Linked DNA regions of Homo sapiens: all the other regions are linked to region 3. The links come from fine-mapping of genetic effects on gene expression. A gene starts in region 3. Each other region holds a variant in brackets. All regions are shown on one strand. Distances are from middle to middle. Region 1 has its middle 230 kb from the start of RGMB-AS1. Region 2 has its middle 280 kb from the start of RGMB-AS1. Region 3 holds the start of RGMB (repulsive guidance molecule BMP co-receptor b).

Region 1 (7,737 bases), 230 kb before region 3:
GCCAGGAGTTCAAGACCAGCCTCGGTAACATAGCAAGACCCCTGGCTTTTGGTAGAGCAGCTGTGCTCTGTTGGGGATCCTTTTAGCCCCTGATCAGTTTGGGCTCGCCAAGGCCCACAGGCCAGACTGACTGAGATGCTGGAACAGCAAAGGTCAACAATACCTTATTAAGCATATGCTCTTTTTTAACCTTCTAATTTATAAGAACGTTTTAAATTAAAAAATTAATTATTTTAATGGGCAAGTAATTGTATGTATTCATGCGGAACTGTTAAAAGAAAAACAGAAAACAACAAAAACAAAAAACTCACAAAAACCCCATCCAAAGGTCAGCACCCTCAAAGATTGAAGGCAGATAAGCCCACAAAGATGAGGAAAAAAAATCAACAGAAAAACACTGAAAACTCAAAAAGCCAGAGTTCCCCTTTTCCACCAAATGACTGCAACACTCCAGCAAGGGCTCAAGCCTGGGCCGAGGCTGAGATGGCTGAAATGAAAGAAGTAAGCTTCAGAATATGGATAAAAACAAACTTCACTCAGCTAAAGGAACATGTTGTCACCCAATGCAAAGGAGCTAAGAATCATGATAAAAGAAGTCAGGAGCTGACAGACAAAATAGTCATTTTAGAGAGGAACAAGGCCAACCTGATAGAGCTGAAAAACACACTACAAGAACTTCACAATGCAATCACAAGTATTAATAGCAGACTAGACAGGGTGGAGGAAAGAATCTCAGACCTGGAAGACTATTTTTCTGAAATAAGACAGGCAGGCAAGAATAGAGAAAAAAGAATGAAAAAGAATGAACAAAACCTCTGAGAAATATGGGATTATGTAAAGACACCAAATTTATGACTGATTGGGGTACCTGAAAGAGACAGGAGAAGGAAACCAACTGGGAAAACATACTTCAGGATATCATCCAGGAGAGCTTCCCCAATCTAGCAAGACAGGCCAACATTCAAACTCAGGAAATCCAGAAAACTCCAGTAAGATACTGCATGAGAAAATTATCCCCAGGACACATAATCATCAGATTCTCCAAGGTCAAAATGAAAGAAAAAATGTTAAGGTCAGCCAGAGAGAAAGGCCATTGGACTAACATCAGACCTCTCAGCAGAAACCCTATAAGCCAGAAGAGATAGAGAGCCAATATTCAACATTCTTTAAGAAAAGAATTTCCAACCCAGTTTCATATCCAGCCAAACTAGGCTTTACAAGTGAAGGAAAAATAAGATTCCTTTCAGACAAGCAAATGCTGAGGGAATTCATCACGACCATGCCTGCCTTGCAAAAGCTCTTGAAGAAAGCACTAAATATGGAAAGGAAAAACTGTTACCAGCCACTGCAAAAACACACTAAAGAGCAAAGACTAATGACACTATGAAGGAAGTAAATCAACAAGCCTGCAAAATAACCAGCTAGCATCATGATGACAGGATCAAATTATCACATGACAATACTAACCTTTAATGTAAATGGGCTAAATGCCCCCAATTAAATGGCAAGCTGGATAAAGAACTAACACTCATTGATATGCTGTCTTCAAGACACCAATTTCACGTGCAAAGGCATACATAGACTCAAAATAAAGGGATGGAGGAAAATTTACCAAGCAAATTGAAAACAGAAAAAAGCAGGGGTTCTCATCCTACTTTCTGACAAAACAAACTTTAAACCAACAAAGATCAAAAAAGACAAAGAAGGGCATTACATAATGGTAAAGGGTTTGATTCAACAAGAAAAGCTAACTATCCCAAATATATATGCACTCAATACAAGAGCACCCAGATTTATAAAGCAAATTCTTAGAGATCTTCAAAGAGACTTAGACACCCACACAATGATAGTGAGAAATTTTAACACCACACTGACAATATTAGACAGTTCATCAAGAAAGAAAATTAACAAAGATATTCAGGACCTAAATCCAGCCCTTCATCAAGTGGACCTGATAGATATCTACAGAACTCTCTACCCAAAAACAACAGAATGTACATTCTTCTAATCATCACATGGCACCTACACTAAAATTGATAACATAATGGGAAGTAAAACACTCCTCAGGAAATGCAAAAGAACTGAAATAACAAACAGCCTCTCAGACCACAGCACAATCAAATTAGAACTTAAGATTAAGAAATTCACTCAAAAATATACAACTACATGGAAATTGAATAAAAAGAAATTCACAAGGAAAAAAAACAAACAACCCCATTAAAAAGTGGGCAAAAGACATGAACAGACACTTCTCAAAAGAAGACATACACAGAGCCAAAAGACATATAAAAAAAAGCTCAGCATCACTGATCATTAGAGAAATGCAAATTAAAACTACAATGAGATACCATCTAACAACAGTCAGAATGGCAATGAATAAAAAGTCAAAAAATAACAGATGTTGGTGATGTTGTGGAGAAAAATGAACACTTATACACTGTTGGTGGGTTGTAAATTAGTTCAACCCTTGTGCAAGACAGTTTGGTGATTCCTTAAAGACCTAAAAACAGAAATACCATTTGGCCCAGGAATTCCATTACTGGATATATACCCAAAGGAATATAAATTCTTATATTATAAAGATACATGCATGTGTATGTTCATTGCAGCACTGTTTACTATAAAAAAGACATGGAATCAACCTAAATGCCCATCGATGTTAGACTGGGTAAAGAAAATGTGGTACATATTCACATTGGTATACTATGCAAACATAAAAAGGAACAAGATAATGTCCTTTGCAGGGACATGGATAGAGCTGGAGGCCATTATCCTTAGCAAACTAATGCAGGAAAAGAAAACCAAATACTATGTGTTCTCACTCATAAATGGAAGAAGAAAGATGAGAACATATGGGCAAATGAGGGGAGAACAATACATCCTGGGGCCTGTCAGAGTGTAGGGTGTGGGAGGAGGGAGAGCATTAAGAAGAATAGCTAATGGATGCTGGGCTTAATTCCTGGGTAATGGGATGATCTGTGCAGCAAACCACCATAGTGCACGTTTACCTATGTAACAAATCTCTACATCCTTCACATGTATCCCTGAACTTAAAATAAAAGCTGGAAATGAAAAAAAAT[C/A]TATTTTAAAATGAGCAAAAGACCTGAATAGATATTTCTGAAAAGAAGACACAAAAATACGTTAGGAAATCAAACAACGCAAAAGTCAGAAAAGAAATAAACTAATTTTAGAAAAGGCAAAAGACTTGAATAGACATTTATCAAAAGAAGACATCCTAATGGCCAGAAGGTATATGAAAAACTGCTCAACACCACTAATTATCAGAGAAACGAAAATGAAAACCACAAAAGGATATCACCTCAAACCTGTTAGAACGGTTATTATCAAAAAGACAAAACATGTTAAGTATTGTTGAGGATGTGGAGAAGAGGTAATGCTTTTACTTTGTTGGTGGTAAGGTAAATTTGTATAGCCATTATGAAAAGTGGTTGGGAGGTTTCTCAAAAACTTAAAAATAGAACTACCCATGATCCAGCAATTCCACTTCTGGGTATATGCCCAAAAGAAACAAAATCAGTATCTTGAAGAGACATCTGCACTCCCATGTTTATTACAGCATTGTTGACAATAACCAAGATATAGATTTATCCTAAATGTCTATCAACAAATCAATGGATTTAAAAAAAATGTGGTATATGAATGCAATGACATATCATTCAGCCTTAAAAAAAGGAATAATCCTGTCATTTTTTCAAACATGGATTAATTTGGATAACATTATGCTAGGTGAAATAAGCCAGACACAAAAGACAAGTGCTGCATAATCTCTCTTATGTATGGAATCTAAAAACCTAGAACTATGACACAGAGTAGAATGGTAGTTGAGTATATTTAACAATACTGTACTGATGGTGAATACAGTTAATAATACTATATTGTATACTTGAAATTTTCTGAGAGTCAATCTTAAAGGTTCTCACCACACACACGTACACAAATGGTAATTATGTGAAGTCATAGACATGTAAATTAGCTTGAATGTGGCAATCATTTCACAATGTATGTATATCAAAATATTATGTTATATACATTAAGTACATATAATTTTTGTCAATTATATGTCAATAAAGCTAGAAAAAAACTAACCAAAAAGGATATATTGTTAATCTCAAGTAAAAGTTAATTTTTTACAGATTACTCATTTTATTGATACATAATAATTCTACATATTTGTGGGGATCATGTGATATTTTGCTACATGCATAAACTGATGAAATAAGGGTAACTGAAATAGCCATCACCTCAAACAATTATTATTTGTTTGTGCTTGGATTATTCCAGAGCTTCTTTTCCAACTATTTTGAAATATACAACTGTAGTCACCCTACTGTGCGATCAAACATTAGAACTTACTCTTTCTATCTAACTGTATGTTTGTACCCATTAACCAACTTCTCTTCATACCCCCCCAGCCTACCCCCCACACACTTTTCCCAGCCTCTGGTAGCCAGCATTTTACCCTCCACCTCCATGAAATTACCTACTTTAGCTCCCACATAGGTGTGAGAATGTGCAATATTAGTCTTTCTGTGCCTGGCTTATTTCACTTAACATAATGACCTCTAGTTCCTTCCATGTCACTGCAAATAACAGGACAGTAAAAGTCAATTGTGAGATATTTGCTGGAAGTATGACAACAGTATTCTACTTTATGGTCAGTTTTATGTAATCAACAAGTCTTAAATTCGATATAGTAACATTGTTTCTCTCATCAGTTGTTTAGATCTCCTTTGTATAAGTTTAAGGAAATACATTTTTAAATGTTTTGTGATAGAAACAAAAAGAGTTTTTCACATTTGTGTCTCAGTGAAAATCATGCTAATTCAGTATATACACTTGCATCTGTTCTATTTGACAATGAAGGTATATTTCAGAGGTTATCCGTACAAAAAAAGAAGAAAAAAAACCCGAATAACTGCTTTTGAGGGAGGATCCAGAATTATATGCCTCTATTTAGGGAAGCAATTGAAACAATTATTTCTTTAATCTGAGGACTAACGTCTACTGGCTGTGGCATTTTTAGCTCCTTTCCTTCAAACCTAACCAAAAACATTGATGATATTTAAATATAAGAATGCATACAATGACACTACATTAACAGCCTTGATGTTGATTGTGCTTTTTTTAAAGCAAACTTTTAATTGAAGTAAAACACACGTTTTTAAGATGCACAAATTATAAATGTATAGACGAAATTTTTACAAAAGAAGCACATCCTGCACCTAAATCAAGAGAGATAATGTTACTAGTACACCAGTAGCCACCACATAACTTCTTCCAGTCACCCCCACTACCCTCTTTCCAGGAAAGAATCATTCTGAATTCTAACGTCAGAGGTTAGTTGAGCCTGTTTATGAAGTTTTATCTTTATATAAATGGAATAACAAGGTGTACTTTTGTATGTGTCTGCCTTCTTTCATCATAATGCTTGTGAGATTTATCAGCATTCTTTCATGGAATTATAATTTGTTGTAAAATGTTGCACCTTCGTTATTACTTACCTTAAAATATCTCCTACTTTCCACCATTTCTTTTTTGAGTTCTTGTTTATTTATTAGTATGTGGCTTAAATTTCAAGCAGTTTGGGATTTTCTAGTTTATTTTTTTGTACTGATATCTAGGTTATTTCCACCAAAATAAAATTACATATTTCTAATTCTTTCAGTATTTTGAAATTTGTTGATATTTGCTTTGACTCACCATATGGTCAAGTGGTCAACTTTTTGGTTTTTTTGAGACAGAGTCTCACTCTGTCCCCCAAGCTGGAGTGCAAGCTCCACCTCCCGGGTTCACACCATTCTCCTGCCTCAGACTCTTTTGTAAATGTAATATTTTTGTTTGAAAAGGAATTTTCTTCTGTTCTTATTGATACAGTTTTCTATGTATGTCAAAAAAGTCAATTTTGCTCATTGGTTTTTCAGGTTTTTTATAACTTTATTGATTTTATTTTTGCTTGTCTTAAGTATTTAGAGAGTTGCTTTAGTCTCTTAATATAATTGTGGATTTTTCTGTTTTTCCCTTTATTTCTATCAGTGTGTGCTATGATGTTGACCATATAGAGATTTAGAGCCTTATGCTTTTCAACTTATTTGGTCCTTTTGCCAATAGTAAATGTCCCATTTCATCTGTAAAAATGCATTTCTATTAATGTTTATCTTATATTAATAAAGCTACTCCATTGTTGTCAATGACTGCAAAGTACATGTATTTCCTTTATTTTATTTTTAAGTTAATCTGTCCCTTATATTTATGGTTTTTCAAATATAAGAAGCATATAGTCAGAGGAGGAGCCAAGATGGCCGAATAGGAACAGCTCCGGTCTACAGCTCCCAGCATGAGCGACGCAGAAGATGGGTGATTTCTGCATTTCCATCTGAGGTACTGGGTTCATCTCACTAGGGAGTGCCAGACAGTGGGCGCAGGTCAGTGGGTGCGTGCACCGTGCACGAGCCGAAGCAGGGTGAGGCATTGCCTCACTCGGGAAGCGCAAGGGGTCAGGGAGTTCCCTTTCCTAGTCAAAGAAAGGGGTGACGGACGGTACCTGGAAAATCGGGTCACTCCCACCCAAATACTGCGCTTTTCCGATGGACTTAAAAAACGGCGCACCACGAGATTATATCCTGCACCGGGCTCGGAGGGTCCTACGCCCACGGAGTCTCACTGATTGCTAGCACAGCAGTCTGAGATCAAACTGCAAGGCTGCAGCGAGGCTGGGGGAGGGGCGCCCGCCATTGCCCAAGCTTGCATAGGTAAACAAAGCAGCCAGGAAGCTCGAACTGGGTGGAGCCCAACACAGCTCAAGGAGGCCTGCCTGCCTCTGTAGGCTCCACCTCTGGGGGCAGGGCACAGACAAACAAAAAGACAGCAGTAACCTCTGCAGACTTAAATGTCCCTGTCTGACAGTTTTGAAGAGAGCAGTGGTTCTCCCAGTACACAGCTGGAGATCTGAGAATGGGCAGACTGCCTCCTCAACTGGGTCCCTGACCCCTGACCCCTAACCCCCGAGCAGCCTAACTGGGAGGCACCCTGCAGCAGGGGCACACTGACACCTCACACGGCAGGGTACTCCAACAGACCTGCAGCTGAGGGTCCTGTCTGTTAGAAGGAAAATTAACAAACAGAAAGGACATCCACACCAAAAACCCATCTGTACATCACCATCATCAAAGACCAAAAGTAGACAAAACCACAAAGATGGGGAAAAAACAGAACAGAAAAACTGGAAACTCTAAAAAGCAGAGCACCTCTCCTCCTCCAAAAGAATGCAGTTCCTCACCAGCAACGGAACAAAGCTGGACGGAGAACGACTATGACGAGCTGAGAGAAGAAGGCTTCAGACAACCAAATTACTCTGAGCTACGGGAGGATAGTCAAACCAAAGGCAAAGAAATTGAAAACTTTGAAAAAAATTTAGAAGAATGTATAACTAGAATAACCAATACAGAGAAGTGCTTAAAGGAGCCGATGGAGCTGAAAACCAAGGCTCGAGAACTACGTGAAGAATGCAGAAGCCTCAGGAGCCGATGTGATCAACTGGAAGAAAGGGTATCAGCAATGGAAGATGAAATGAATGAAATGAAGTGAGAAGGGAAGTTTAGAGAAAAAAGAATAAAAAGAAATGAGCAAAGCCTCCAAGAAATATGGGACTATGTAAAAACACCAAATTTACGTCTGATTGGTGTACCTGAAAGTGACGGGGAGAATGGAATCAAGTTG
Region 2 (7,737 bases), 280 kb before region 3:
TGTGTGCATGTGTATTTCTGGGTAGTAGTCAATGGCCCGGTCAGCTGATCAACAATAGCCTAGAAATAAAAGGACTGAAAGATCAGAGATGAGGAGATCTCTAGTAAGGCATGTGCATAAACATATGCGAGTGGGCTCAAATTATGAAACTTTTTGTATAACATGTTAACATCTACTAGAAAGCATCCATCATGGGAAAAGCACTGAAGAATCAAGTAGACAAAATGACGTAGCCAGTTGACTTTAGCCAGTCGACTTTAGCCAGTCTTACTTATCAGCCGCTAAGAAATGGCATGATGGGCATATGAACAAAGGCACTGAGGTGGCAGTATTGGAGTCTGCACAGGGATCTAACATGGACTCTCACCTGTCCAGGCCTATTTACCTACTGTCATGCTGAATGTCCAGCCTGCCATGAGTGCTGAGTCCCCATATAGCACTATTTCTGCAGGAGATTAGCCAGTTACTTGGTGGCAACTCGACTAAACTGGATCTCTTTCATCTTGGAAAAATTGACAGTTTGTCCTTACAGAGAAAATGTAAGATGCTCAACATCACTAATTATTAGAGAAAGGCAAATCAAAACCACAATGAGATGCCATCCCACACCTGTCCGAATGACTATTACTAAAAAGTCAAAAATTAACAGATGGTGTCAAAGTTGCAGAAAAAAAGGGAATGCTTATACATTTCATGTGGGAATGTAAATTAGTTTAGCTATTGTGGAAAGCACTTTGGCAATTTCTCAAAGGACTTAAAACAGAATTACCATTTGACCCAGCAATCCCATTACTGGTTATATACCCCAAAGAATTCTAATTATTCTACCATAAGGACACATGCACATGAATGTTCATCGTGGCATGATTCACAATACCAAAGACATGGAATCAACCTAAATGCCCATCAATGACAGACTGGATAAAGAAATTGTGGTACAGGAGAGGACCCACAGACACTCTGAAGGAAGCCAACTGCTCCTGCAGGACCTGGGAGACCCCCCAAAAAACTGCACAAGTATCCACGGCTGAGAGGCCCATAGATGGTTCACATTACAGGACTCTGTGCAGACAACCCCCAGTACCAGCCCAGAACTGTGTAGACTCACCAGCTGGCTAGACCCAGAAGAGAGACAACAGTCACTACAGTTTGACTCACAGGAAGCCACACCCACAGGAAAAGGTGCAGAGTACTACATTAAGGAAACACCACATGGGACAAAAGAATCTGAACAACAGCCTTCAGCCCTAGACCTTCCCTCTGACAGCCTACCCAAATGAGAAAGAACCAGAAAACCAAACCTGGTAGTATGGCAAAATGAGGCTCTTCAACACCCCAAAAAAATTACACTAGTTCACCAGCAATGGATCCAAACCAAGAAGTCCCTGACTTTTCTGAAAAAGAATTCAGGTTAGTTATTAAGCGAATCAGGGAGGAACCAAAGAAAGGCAAAGCCCAATGCAAAGAAATCCAAAAAATGATACAAGAAGTGAAGGGAAAAATATTTAATGAAAGAGGTAGCTCAAGGACAAAAAACCAAACACCGTATGTTCTCACTCACAGGTGGGAATTGAACAATGAGAGCACATGGACACAGGAAGGGGAACATCACACACAGGGGACTGTTGTGGGGTCGGGGGAAGGGGGGAGGGATAGCATTAGGAGATACACCTAATGCTAAATGACAAGTTAATGGGTGCCGCACACCAACATGGCACATGTATACATATGTAACAAACCTGCACATTGTGCACATGTACCCTAAAACTTAAAGTATAATAATAATAAAATTTAAAAAAAATCAAAAATTCAGGAAACTTTAGACATACTTTTACTTTAGACACACTTTTAGAAATGTGAAATGCTCTGGAAAGTCTCAGCAATAGAATTGAACAAGTAGAAGAAAGAAATTCAGACCAGAAAGACAAGGTCTTTGAATTAACCCAATCCAACAAAGACAAAGAAAAAAGAATAAGAAAGTATGAACAAAGATTCCAAGAAGTCTAGGATTATATTAAATGACCAAACCTAAGAATAATTGGTGTTCCTGAGGAGGGAGAGAATTCTAAAAGCTTGGAAAATATATTTGGGGGAATAATCAAGGAAAACTTCCCCAGCCTTGCTAGAGACCTAGACATCCAAATACTAGAAGCACAAAGAACACCTGGGAAATTAATTGCAAAAAGATCTTCACCTAGGCACATTGTCATCAGGTTATCCAAAATTAAGACAAAGGAAAGAATTTTAAGAGCTGTGAGACAGAAGCACCAGGTAACCTATAAAGAAAAACCTATCAGATTAACAGCAGATTTCTCAGCTGAAATCCTACAAGCTAGAAGAGATTGGGGCCCTATCTTTAGCCTCCTCAAACAAAACTATTTTCAGCCAAGAATTTTGTATCCAGCAAAACTAAGCATCATATATGAAGGAAACATACAGTCTTTTTCGAACAAATGCTGAGAGAATTCACCATTACCAAGCCACCACTACAGGAACTACTAAAAGGAGCTCTAAATCTTGAAACAAATCCTGGAAACACATAGAAACGGAACCTCTTTAAAGCATGAATCACACAGGACCTACAAAACAAAAATACAAGTTAAAAAGCAAAAACAAAAAACCAAATTACACCAGCAACAAAAAGCATGATGAATGCAGCAGTACCTCACATTTCATTACTAACATGGGAATGTAAATGGCCTAAATGCTCCATTTAAAAGATACAGAACCACAGAATAGGCAAGAACTCACCAACCATCTGCTGTCTTTAGGAGACTCACCTAACACATAAGGACTCACATAAACTTAAAGTAAAGGGGTGGAATAAGACATTTTATGCAAATGGACACCAAAAACAAGCAAGGGTAGCTATTCTTGTATCAGACAAAACAAACTTTAAAGCAATAGCAGTTGAAAGAGACAAAGAGGGACATTATATAGTGGTAAAAGGCCTTGTCCAACAGGAATATATCACAATCCTAAACATATATGCCTCTAACACTGGAGCTCCCAAATTTATAAACAATTACTAACAGACCTAAGAAACGAGATAGCAACACAATATTAGTTGGGGACTTCAGTACTCCATTGACAGCACTAGACAGGTCATCAAGACAGCAAGTCAGCAAAGAAACAATGGATTTAAACTATAACTTAGAACAAATGGACTTAACAGATATATACAGAACATTTCATCCAACAGCCACAGGATACACATTCTATTCAACGGTGCATGGAACTTTCTACAACAGAGACCATATGATAGGCCCTAAAATGAGCCTCAATGAATTTAAGAAAATTGAAACTATATCAAGCACTCTCTTAGACCACAGTGGAAGAAAACTGGAAATCTACTCCAAAAGGAACCTTCAAAATTATTCAAATTCATGGAAATTAAATAACATGCTCCTGAATGAGCAGTGAGTAAAAAATGAAATCAAGATGGAAATTAAAAAATTCTTTGAACTGAAAGACAATAATGACACAACCTATCAAAACCTCTGGGATACAGCAGAGGCAGTGCTAAGAGGAAAGTTCATAGCCCTTAATGCCTACATCAAAAAGACTGAAAGAGCACAAACTGACACGTGAACATCACACCTCAAGGAACTAGAGAAACAAGAACAAACCAAACCCAAACCCAGCAGAAGAAAGGAAATAACCAAGATCAGAGCAGAACTAAATGAAATTGAAACAAAAAA[G/C]ATGCAAAAGATAAATGAAAAAAAAATCTGGTTCTTTGAAAAGATAAATAAAACTGATAGACCATTAGCAAGATTAAGCAAGAAAAGAAGAGAGAAAATCCAAATAAACTCACTAAGAAACAAAACAGGAGATATTACAACTGACACCACTGAAATACAAAAGATTATTCAAGTTTACTATGAACACGTTTACACACATAAACTAGAAAACCTAGAAGAGATAGATAAATTCCTAAAAAAAATACAACCCTCCTAACTTAAATCAGGAAGAATTAGATAACCTGAACAGACCAAAAACAAGCAGTGAGACTGAGATGGCAATTTAAAAATTAACAACAACAAAAAAATCCAGGACCAGACAGATTCACAGCAGAATTCTGCCAGACATTCAAAGAAGAATTGGTACCAATCCTTTTGTACTATTCCACAAGATAAAAAAGGAACCCTCCCTAATTCATTCTATGAAGTCAGCGTCACCCTAATACCAAAACCAGGAAAGGACATAACCAAAAAAGAAAACTACAGACAGATATTTTTGATAAACATAAATGCTAAAATCCTTAATAAAATACTAGCTAACTGAATCCAACAACGTATCAAAAAGATAACCCAACATGATCAAGAGGGTTTCATATCAAGGATGCACGGATGGTTTAACATACACAAGTCAGTAAATGTGATACACCACATAAACAGAATTAAAAATCACATTATCATCTGTGTTAGTTTGCTGAGAATGATGGCTTCCAGCTTCATCTATGTCCCTGCGAAGGACATGATATCATTCTTTCTTATGGCTGCATAGTATTCCATGGTGTATATGAGCCACATTTTCTTTATCCAGTCTATCATTGATGGGCATTTGGGTTGTTTCCAAGACACTTGCACACACATGTTTATAGCAGCATTAATTCACAATTGAAAAATCATGGAACCAACACAAATGCCCATCAATCAACAAGTGGATAAAGAAACTGTGGTGTATATATATATTATATATACATAATATATATATATGAATACTACACAGTCATAAAAAGGAATTAACAGATAATAAAAAGAATTAACAGTCATAAAAAGAATTAACAGCATTTGCAATGACCTGGATGAGATTGGAGACTATTATTCTAAGTGAAGTAACTCAGGAATGGAAAATCAAACATCATATGTTCTCACTGATATGTGGGAGCTAAGCTATGAGGACGCAAAGGCATAAGAATGATAAAATGGACTTTGGGGACTTGGGGGGAAGAGTGGGAGGGGGATGAGGGATAAAAGACTACAAATATGGTGCAGTGTATACTGCTTGGGTTATGAATGCACCAAAATTACCACTAAAGAACTTACTTATGTAACCAAATACCACCTGTACCCTAATAACTTATGGAAAAAAAAATTTTTAATGTGGTACATATACACCATGGAATACTATGCAGCAGAAAAAAGTGAGGTCATGTCCTTTGCAACAACACAGTTGGAGCTAGCAGCCGTTACCTTAAGTGAACTAACACAGGAACAGAAAATCAAATACCACATTTCCTCACTTATGAGTGAGAGCTAAACATTGAGTATAAATGGACACAGAAAAGACAACAGCAGACACCAGGGCCTACTTGAGGGCAGAGGCGGGAGGAGGGAAAGGATCAAAAACTACCTATTGGACACTACACTTATTACCTGGGTGCACCAAACCCCTGTGACATTCAATTTACCTATATAACAAACCTGCACATGTACCCCTGAACCTAAAATAAACGTTAAAAAAAAAGAAAAGAAAATCCCTCTCTGGACATATGAATTTGTTTTTTCTGCCCACAGATCCTCGCTGTCCAGGCCTCGCTGACACAATGCCTGATCCACAAACATTGAATCCCCACAACATAGCAAGGGTAACTGAACCTGATCAGTAGGAGGAAGTAGTGCCGCTTTAACATAATGGGAGAAGAGGAGATTCTGCATGGAACCCAGATGGCCCATTTGTGAATTTCTTGATTCTCACTTGCCCCACTGTGTGTGAACACACACAGCAACCCTGCCACTAAATGCTGGTGACATATTTGCATTGGAAATGAACTTAAATAGTGAGTTGGTTTTACAAAGGCCACAAAAGAGACTTAGGTAATGACTATTGTTTGTTCTTAGTCTAAGTTTGAATCCATGATTCAAGTTGACATTTTGGAATATCTTGTAATGTCTTTGAAGAATATCAAACCTAACCAAGGGCTCCATGTATTTTGTTTTTTCCTTTTGCACAAGATAAACTTAATTTTGTAGTAGTTTTAGGTATTTGGGAATCATAAATCATTTACTTAAATCAGTTTCAATTTCATTACTTTTCCATAATCTGAATACATAATTGTTCCAGTTTATTTTTAATTTACAGGGAAACTCACAAGGACAAGTTTGGCACTTCTTCACTTGTTCTGAGTTGTTTATGTGGTTGGATTCAGTTATTAAGGCTTAGATCCAGTTTGTACTCACAGCTCTGGCCTGGGGCCTTCTTCTGTGTCTCTGCCTACTTCTGTGGAGGCATGAAGAGAGGCACTATGTCCATGTGATATGATGCAAAACCACTGAACTCATTTGAGGTGTCAAACTTAGAGGCTGATCCTTACTTTTTCCTTCCCAATGTGTAAAAATAAACATCCCAATCTCCGGCTTCTCTGATTGCATTAGTCACAAGTTGTCACATGATTCCTTTGTTCTTAAAACATTTTTAATGACTGAAAATAACAGTTTTCATCTCATCTTCAAAAGGTTATTTCTAACAATCCCAAATCTGAAGATATGGTTTTAAGTTTCTGAGTGGCAGGAAGTAAACTAAACTTTTTTTAAATGAAAGATATCAAAAGAAATAGTTAGGTCTTTGTCAGACTCTAGCCTTGTGGAAAAATTCTAGATGAAAATTCTGGGATAAATTTTGCAATTCTAACATTACTTTATTCTTTTTTGATCCATTAACTAGGAAGTTTTCCTTAATCATCTCTACTTTGCTAGACATAATGGAATAATACAAAATAAATAGGGCTCAATTTCTATTCAGGACTGTAAGATCTAATGGTACAGATAAAATTAATACACATGAACTCATACAGAACAATCGAGAGTGAGCAATGTGGTGCTGACTTTAAGTATAACAGGTGTTTGGGACAAAGTAGAGATTAGTGAAGATCAACGTAATAAAAGAAAGCTTTATGGAGGAAGTAGTGTTTGAACTGAGGCTTGAAGAATGTACAAAAGGTGGTTAGGAGCAATGGTTCTATAATGAAGCAGACATCAGCAGCTGTGTGGCTGGGGAGCTATGGGGCTCACAGAAGTAAGATAGCTTACCTTTCTAAGCCTTATTCATTTGTAAATGGTGTTAATTATAGTACCTACCTGATTGTTTTATTTTTTGTTTTGTTTTAGAAAATGGGATAACAAATGCAAAGGACTTAGTCATAAAAGTTAGCTTTTAATATTAGGCAGAGAGATGAAACATATTGAGGAAGGAAAGCAAGTAACTCAAAGAACAAAGATGGTTGATGCTTATATGCAGGCCAGAGTGTAGGGTGGTGTGTGGTAGGGTCTAATGGAAATAAGAATAGACGGATGAAGTAGCACCGTGCCAAAGAGGAGCTTAGAAGCTTAATATACATATTTATCAACTCATTCAAAAGATATTTAACATCTACTGTGTACAAGTCATTGTGGTAATAATGAGAATTCCATGTTGAAGACTAGTATCATTTCTACCCTCATGAAGCATCGCTCTTGCAGGGAATAGAAGCATTAAAAAATTATAAGTGGAAAAGGAGAAATACAAAAGTTTATATTATTATGAATTCCATAAATGTTTATGATGTTGAAAAAGAAAGCTTTTCTTACCATAAAAATCACTACTAACCTATGTGAGATAAGACATATGATTAGATATGACACACAACTCTCTAAGAAAATAAAAACAAAATCACTCTGTCTATATAACACAATCAACTTGACAAAAAGTCCATCAGGGCTGTAAAACCAATATGAAACTCGATCAAACTTTTGATAT
Region 3 (7,737 bases):
CGCGGGTGGGCGAAGGCAGCGCCGCCGGCCCGGAGGGCGGCGCGGAGGGTGGCGCTGGCGGCGTGAAAGGCGTCTTTGTGCAAGATTGAGTGTGGTGGGGGGAAGGCGAAGAGAGAACTGATCCAGGACCTGGACGCGGGGGTCTGCGGCGCCCCTACGCCCCCACGCCCCCAGCCGTCCGCAGTGCCGGAATGAGCCGGATAGCGCCGGCAGGGGGCAGTGTGGCGATATAGGGGTTGCCGGGGGGAGAGGAGGGTCTCTGTTCACCTCTATTTGAGGCTGACTGGGGAGAAAGCTGCCTGGAGGAAGCTGCTGGGGTGCGGGGGGCTGAGGGATTTGGCTCCCCGCCCTCTCCCCTAGATGGCGGAGAAATCGGGCTAGCTGGAAGGGCGCAGCTCCTCTCCCAGAGCTCATTCTGGAGTCGGAGAACTGGGAGAGCGGCCCCCGAGGCGGAGCCTCCCTCCCGCCCCGAGTCGCGCTGCCCCCCACCTGGGGGAGAGGGGCGGGCGCCGCGCTGCCTTCCCTCCGCGCCTCGGCCGCGTGGCTTGCGGCTTATTTTCCCAGCTGGCAAGCGTCGCGCTGCAGACAAGGGAATGCCTGTGGTGAGTTGTTTATTTTGTTGAAGTTTGCGGTGGGCCCGGGGGACGTGGGGGGCGAGCGGCAGGCAGCGGCCGGGACTGTTTTGTTTAGGTCTCCATCCACCTGTGGGGTATAAATCTGCCAGCCTCAAGGCGGCGGGGGACCGGAGTGAGAAAGCTCTGACGCTCCCAAAAGCCCCTTTTCGCAACTTACAGATCTAGGACCACATTTGATTCTCCACGCCTGGAACCGGCTAGATCCTAGTTTACGCTCACCCCGCCCTCCAGCCTCCCATCAACGCTTCCCGCACCCGCTGTGTGCAGGGCTGGCGCTCCGCAGAGCAAACAGCGCCCACGACCCAGGGACAGCTGGCCACCGAAGTCCCTCCCCGGCGCCCTTCCCCGTTCCTTGAGGATAGGGGAGCTGAGGTTTTCATGTGAAGGGCGCCCATGAAATTCGTGGGAACTTGTTCTGGCGTCTTCTGGAGTGGAGTTCTTTCAGGGGTTTCGGGTCTGCCCGGGACTACAAAATGGGATCCTGGGTTGGCTGGAGTTTCCCAGACTAGGCTGGAGAGAGGTCGGCTGTTGGCTCGCGGGAGAGCCCAGAGGAACCCCTTGGGCGATGGCAGTCAAGACCGGCGGCTGCGTTTGCCTGGAAGAAAAGCCTAAATACATTAGCGAGCTGGTAAAGCTTTTAAGGCCTTCTTGGGAGCGAGTGGCTGGCTAATGAGAGGTTAATTTTGTTTCGAAGGGAAGGCTGCACTGGTTTCCTGAGATAAATGGACAGGAAGCGCATTACCTCCGCGCGCTGGCAAGCGGCTCCCAAATGCTTTTTGCACCTGCCGTTTTGAGCGGTGAGAGCAGCGGCGGAGCCCGCAGGGATTGCGGGGGCCCGTTGTCTACGAGCGGGTGATGAGCCCCCCGCAAGCCCCGGGCTCTCTCCCTCCGCGAGTGCATTGCTCACGCCAAGCTTTGGGACTCTTCTCTCACACCCAGGTCCTGCGTGTTCCGAAGTTCAGGGGCCCCCTGATCCCGCTGAGCCCCCTCCAGGAGCGAAAGGGTTAAGAATGATGTAAGTACAGGCACTTGATTTCTCAAGTCGCCCGCTTGGCCCTCTTCCAAGTTGTACTTTCCTTATTTTCTCTCCTTTCCTTTCCTTACTGTTCTAACGCTTTTTAATAAACTTTCACTCTTGCTCTGAAAAAAAAAATGATGTAAGTACAAACCACGAGCTGCTTGACGCTGAGCTGTTGGACTCCGGGCTATTTCAGCCGCTGCTTTGGGTACACAGTGGCCGGGGAGCAGCCGGGGAGCCCTTACTCTAGAAAGGATTGCACAAATCGCAAGCTTAGGTGATCTGTTAAGCAGTCAGAGATTCTCCTGTTAGATTTCTGGAAATGGAGACATATTAACTGGAGAACAGTTAAAAACATCACGTATAGGCTCAGGAAATGAAACTGCATCTTGTTTAGAATCCATTAGTGTTTCTGGCATGTGTTTTAATTCTGTCCACTTGCACGTTCATGCCGTAGTATGCTTTGCTGGATTCTCCGGATGTACTGTTCAGGTCTCCTCCTTCCTTTCTGAAAACAAAGAGAAAGGGAGAAAGAGTACCAGTGGCAAGAAACAGGGTGGATGTGTGAATTACACAAGTCATCAGCCACTTCATGATTTTTTTTCTGATTAAAACATAAAACTTTTATAAGTCACCGATTTTTTTGTTTGTGTTCTAGCTCCCTCCCCGATTTTTCTTTGTACAATATAAAGTCGTTTGTAACTTGCAGCTCACGGGCTTGAGGAGTGGCTGCGGTATAAGCGACTATTCACTACGCTCTTGCTTTCCAAGCCAATTCCTGATCTTGTGAACAGTACGAATTTACCCGCGAGTGTGTCAACTGACCTATGTCTTGAAAATAGGAACCACCTTGCGGTTTACTTGTGAAAATTAGCATTTTCCTCTAGCGGCTGAACACTTATGCAGCAATAAAAAGTGAATTGTTAGGCTTATAAATCTCGAGCTTGTCAAATTTTACAACAGAGGAGCAATAAAGCACCTTATAGAGATGAAGTTTTTCCTCTGAAGAACAGTTCCGTTTAACGACACCAGGATTTGCAATGACTCGAGGACGCCCTCTATTGATAGGAAAATCTAGAGCACCCGTGTACTTATGGAACAGGATATAGGGGGAGGGGAGTAAAAAATCATAGAAAGTCACGAGTGGAAAGACCCAAACCAAACAGAAATTATTGATCCTTAACTATTGAGTATATGCTTTGAAGTATGATCAATAAAGTGAGATGCTGCTTTTATAGGGGTCGAATTAAATCTTGGGTTAAGAGAAAAAAATGTAGTCTTTGTTAGCCAAATACTTTGAAAATCAGTATTATGTTTGATTACTTTTTTAAGATGCTTCTTAGTATGTCATGAACTGTATCTAATTATATGAAGTAATTGCAAGATAGTAAATTTTTGCTCTAATAATACTTAGTCCGCAGCATTATCTAAAAATGTCATATAACTTCCTCCCCAAAAGTCATTTCTCCAGGCAACTGTGAAGCTATTATTAAGCGTATTATGGATATACACAGGCTTGGATTATATTGTGGATAGTGAAAGGTGTGTTTACCCCTTAAGTCATCATAGTATGTAACAAGTAAGTAATGAAAAGTTACAGTAAAAACAGATAGGCATCCTTCATTAGGGACCTAGTGGTTTGGGCAATTCAAAATGTGTCTAATAAGTGAGCTGGTGAGACTGAAGGTTTGCCCCTCAATTATCCTAGTCCATTGATTAGCTCATTTAAACATGTGTGGAATATCAGCATGTCCGTGGTTGATAAGAAATTCCTAATTAGAGATTCTGAGTAACATAGCGGGTACAGTTGCCAACTACGATTTGGATGTTAGTGGATTTTAAATGGCAACCCTGTGCTGTTTGGGGAAAGGCAAAGGCGAGGGCGGTATCAAGTGTCTCTCAGCCTTGAGGTCATTCTTGAGATTAGATACCACTTCACACCTACCGATAACAAATTGGAATCTATCATCAGTCTCATAACTGCTTTTCTGTCTCCACTTGGCAGCCTCTTTCTTTGTAGACAATTGTCTTTTTCCTCACTTTCGGACCCATCCGATCATAAAAGGAGAAAGTGAGCTGCCATTGAATTAATCCGTAGAAATTTGTGGAAAATTTAAATAATCTGTAGAAATTTGTGAAAAAGCCACTGAGCAACAACAAATCGTGGCATAATTACACTGCATAAAAACCCACCACTCTCATTAATTACACTGTAACCGAACGTTGAAGTTTGCCCACTCTTAGACCTCTCCTTGCCGCTTTCAGGAAGGGAAATGTCAAACTAGAACACCTGAGCCTCGCACAGCTGCCAGCGAATTCCGGCGGCAGTTCGCGGGTACCTTCCCAGCCCATCCTATCTGCTCCGGACCGCGGGTGACATTCAGATTTCCAACACCGCCCCGAGCTTGCTTTACCAGACACCCTCAAACGACTCGGAACGCGGTTCCGCAGATGTGATTGGCTGAAAGGGGACCTGCCGCGCGGCGCTCTGTAAAAGCGCCTGCTTCCTCCAAGGAGGTGGAGCTGAAGCTGGCAGGGCCAGGGCAGGGAGGGGTAATTAAATTAAAAAAAAAACTTGGAGGGAAGATGAATCGGATCACATTAATTCAAGGAGAGGTCAAAGGCCGGTACCTTTGTAACGCCGGCGAGAGTAAGACTTGCGGTCGCCCATTTCTGTTGGGCGCGAGGAAACAGTAAATCGCGGAAGGGGGTAGAGGGGGAAGGAAAGGGAGCGCGAGGCAGCATGCGGCGCAGGAGAGAGGACTTGGAGTCGATGGACAGGGAACTCGAATTACACTGAGCGGGCGGGGGAGAGGGCCCTCTGGGTCCTGCGATTGGCAGGCTGAGTCGGGCTGACGTGCGGTCACAACCAATGGGGAGGAAGGGAGGGACACGGCGGGGGATTATGGCGTCGTGGATTGGCGGGCACAGGGCGGGGCGGGACGGCAGTGCGGGACTGAGATTGATCGACCGCGGGGGCTGCCGCGCAGAGATATCCGGGCCGCCGGTGGGTGGTCGCTAGGGCTGGGCCAGCCTCTTGGAGGTCCACGCCCGCCGAGCCCACGCTGGCTGGGGCCGGGGTGCCGGCGCGCTCGGGACTCGTCTCAGCAGTCGCTCACGGTCTTTGTGTCTTCTCTTCCGCCCCTTTCCCTGCCTGCCGCCTCCGGCCGCCACGATGCCCCTGCGCCCCGCTGCTGCCGCCGCGGACTGGCTGCGCCGGCTGCGCGCTGCTTGCTGCGGCGGTGGTGGCGCCCCATCTGCTACACGGGCCTGAAGAAGGAAGAAGAGGAAGCGAAGCGCGCCCCCCGGCCCATGCCGCAGCCACGGGCCCAGACCCGCCACGGCGCCCGCGCCGCCGCCCTCGCCGGAGCCCACGAGACCTGCATGGACGGGCATGGGCTTGAGAGCAGCACCTTCCAGCGCCGCCGCTGCCGCCGCCGAGGTTGAGCAGCGCCGCAGCCCCGGGCTCTGCCCCCCGCCGCTGGAGCTGCTGCTGCTGCTGCTGTTCAGCCTCGGGCTGCTCCACGCAGGTAGGACGGGAGCGCGCGAGGGGAGCCAGCCCCGGGGCCTAGGGCTTTGTTCCCAAATAGCCCCAGGTCTCGAAGGCGCTCGCCGGGGCGGAAGGGCGGCGTGGCGCAACGGGAAAGGCCTCCCGAGCCCCTGACACGCACCTCTGTCGGGCTCCGGGCCACAGTAACGCAGCCACCCACCGGGCGGCCGCCGGGCGCAGAGACGAGCCTTCTCTCCACCCTCCCCGCCTTCGGCTCGGACCGCTGACAAATCTCCCCTCCGACAGCCGCTTATCAAACATTTAGCGGGCGGGGGCCGCGCGCCCGAGACAAATGTTCCGGATGCTTTATTGCTCTCTGCGCTGGTGTTTACTGAAAGTCAGGCTCGGATCAGGTTTCCGCCGTCGCAGCCGCCTCGGAGGGAGACAAGGAGCCTTGTGCTGCTTTTCTGGAGTTGGGGGTGGCGGCGAGGCGAAGGAAGTACACCAGATGGAAAGATTTTTACCAGATTTTGCAAACCTGGGAGTTAATCTCGAAGTAACGTCAACTTTTTTGAGCAGGGATTTCTTTCGTTTTGGCAAAAGCTGCGTTTGTTCAGCGATCAGCCTCCCGGGAAAAGCTCGTGTTTTGTGACTAGCCGGGTGTCTTCGGGCTCCGTGAGGGGTTGACAGATAACCATGCTGCCTTCTGGAGGTCGGCGCTTCCCCAGCCTTGAGGCGTATGTTCCAAGGGAAGTAAGCCTGCAAATGAGCCTTCTACCATGTGATACCTATTTTTCTTTTTAAAAAATCGTTTCATGAAAATCCAGGACGCTCTTCACACTATTTTTTTCTAGGAATTTGCCTAGACAAAGAATTTTTTTTAATGCTAAGGTTGAAAGGGTCATTTTCCTTTAGTCTTGAGAACAAACAGCATTAGATAAGTTTCTTTTCCTTCCAGACCTTTTTTGTCCTGTATATATGAGACACTTCACAACGTTCTGGTCTGGAGAATCCTGAACTTCGATGCCACCCAACTGTGCGGAGTAATTTTTACTTATTAAACCATACCCGCCATGCTAAAAATCAGGGAGGTCTTTTAAGTAATGGGGGGGAAAATGTGACATCTGAGGAGACTTAATTTACTTTGCGTAGCTTTGCATTATGATGTAATAGCTGCTTTTTAACACCGACAATTAGGGAAAAGACGGCTTAATAAAAAAGTGTAATAGAAAGTTTTAGGATGATTACGGCTTTCAATTAGTAACCTAAGAACCTTAGAAAATAGTGTCAATCTGCATGTAGTTACGTGGAAAATTTTTCTTGACATGTTAAAAGATATATTCAGGAGTGTTTGTGCGAAAAATATGTGTCCATAATACCAAAATGTAAGTTTCATGAAATGGAAATTGTGCTAGGTGGGATTGTGTCCCCCTTGGCTGCTTGGATATTGTTTCCCATAGTTGCCATAGGATCCTGTGACAGAATTGGAATGTGGTCCCTGAAGGTTTCTTTGCTAGCCCGTGAAAGGCATACTAAGTTGGCTTAAAGGTTTAGAAAAGTAGGGTGTCTTCGTTCAAGAATTTGGAATGTGAAGCTCCCAGTATCTTCATGTGTCCTCATTTAAGTCACCATTAGATTCAGCCCAACAATGTGGTAAGCGATTTCTATGGACAACTTGTTGGAGTGAAGCGATTAATCCTGTTAAAGAAAAGAACGCTCCTTTTGAGAGATTTCTTTGAAGAGTGGTGCTATTTAAATGCCCGGGTTGTTTCTCAGATAAGGGAACCCAGCAAGAGTGCCAGTGCTCTTTGCAGATGGACTACTATATGTTTTATGCCTGGATCCTTATCATCTGCCTCAGCACCCCATATGGCTCCACATTTCACTTAATTCAGCTTCAGAATACCTCATTTCTTTTATTATAAACTGGTGATTGTGCTGCAGATTCACACGTGTAGTCCTGGTGTTAAAGAAACTGTCTTGAATGGTGAGGTCTTTATGTCTGATTCATTCAAAAATGATGAAATGAAAGCTCTAGACCCACAAATGCTTTAGCATGTTCAGTAACTGGTGTGAAAATACTGTCACACTGATCACAGATAATCTGACCCAAAAATAGAGAAATCTGTAGCTGCAGAGTTTTAATTCTGCCCTTGGGGAATGAAAAGAGTATGAAAAGAGTACCTTTAGTTGCTTTATTTTATTTTATTTTTTTTAAGCAAACCTCTGCAATTCCTGAATAGAGATCCAATATGGGAGTTACTTGCTTACTCATACACTTCATGGCCTTCTTGGCTACATCCTTGAGATTGTTTCTGCTCCGCATTGTCTTGGCATTTTGACAGGAGGCTTACTTTACCGCCTATAACAGGCAAAGTGTGCGTTGTCGTTATAAATTCATGAAGCCTGGATATTTCTGGGTGTATGCTACAAATTAGTCATTATATAGAAGCCCACAAGGCAGCTGAAAATGCTGACCCAATCGCACTTTCTATTTAGCCCTCTTCGCTCCCATCATCTCTGTAGCAGAAGGCTGTTGGAAGCCTTAGCCAAAGCAAAAGAACCCCGGGAGATCTGTTTGATTTGAGATTTGT

Evidence for each region. PIP is the estimated chance that this variant, and not a neighbour inherited with it, causes the effect. A credible set is the group of variants that fine-mapping cannot tell apart.
Region 1: its variant is the best candidate, but not a certain one, in a credible set for the expression of RGMB in whole blood (TOPMed, PIP 0.66).
Region 2: its variant is the best candidate, but not a certain one, in a credible set for the expression of RGMB in blood mononuclear cells (TOPMed, PIP 0.58).

What each region holds. Positions count from the first base shown.
Region 1 is chr5:98,540,364-98,548,100 of GRCh38, forward strand. No RefSeq gene overlaps it. Among named protein-coding and RNA genes, the nearest start is that of RGMB-AS1, 230 kb to the right of the region's middle. The variant C/A (reference allele first, on the strand shown) is at 3,081.
Region 2 is chr5:98,491,306-98,499,042 of GRCh38, forward strand. No RefSeq gene overlaps it. Among named protein-coding and RNA genes, the nearest start is that of RGMB-AS1, 280 kb to the right of the region's middle. The variant G/C (reference allele first, on the strand shown) is at 3,702.
Region 3 is chr5:98,769,024-98,776,760 of GRCh38, forward strand. It overlaps RGMB (repulsive guidance molecule BMP co-receptor b), which reads left to right and starts at 4,640. Exons shown (of 3, transcript NM_001366508.1): 1 at 4,640-5,183. The coding sequence starts at 5,048. It overlaps RGMB-AS1 (RGMB antisense RNA 1), which reads right to left and starts at 4,061. Exons shown (of 2, transcript NR_033932.1): 1 at 3,599-4,061; 2 at 595-2,161. RefSeq lists enhancers at 1,338-1,838, 4,217-4,266, 5,002-5,501, 5,757-5,876 and a silencer at 4,487-5,116.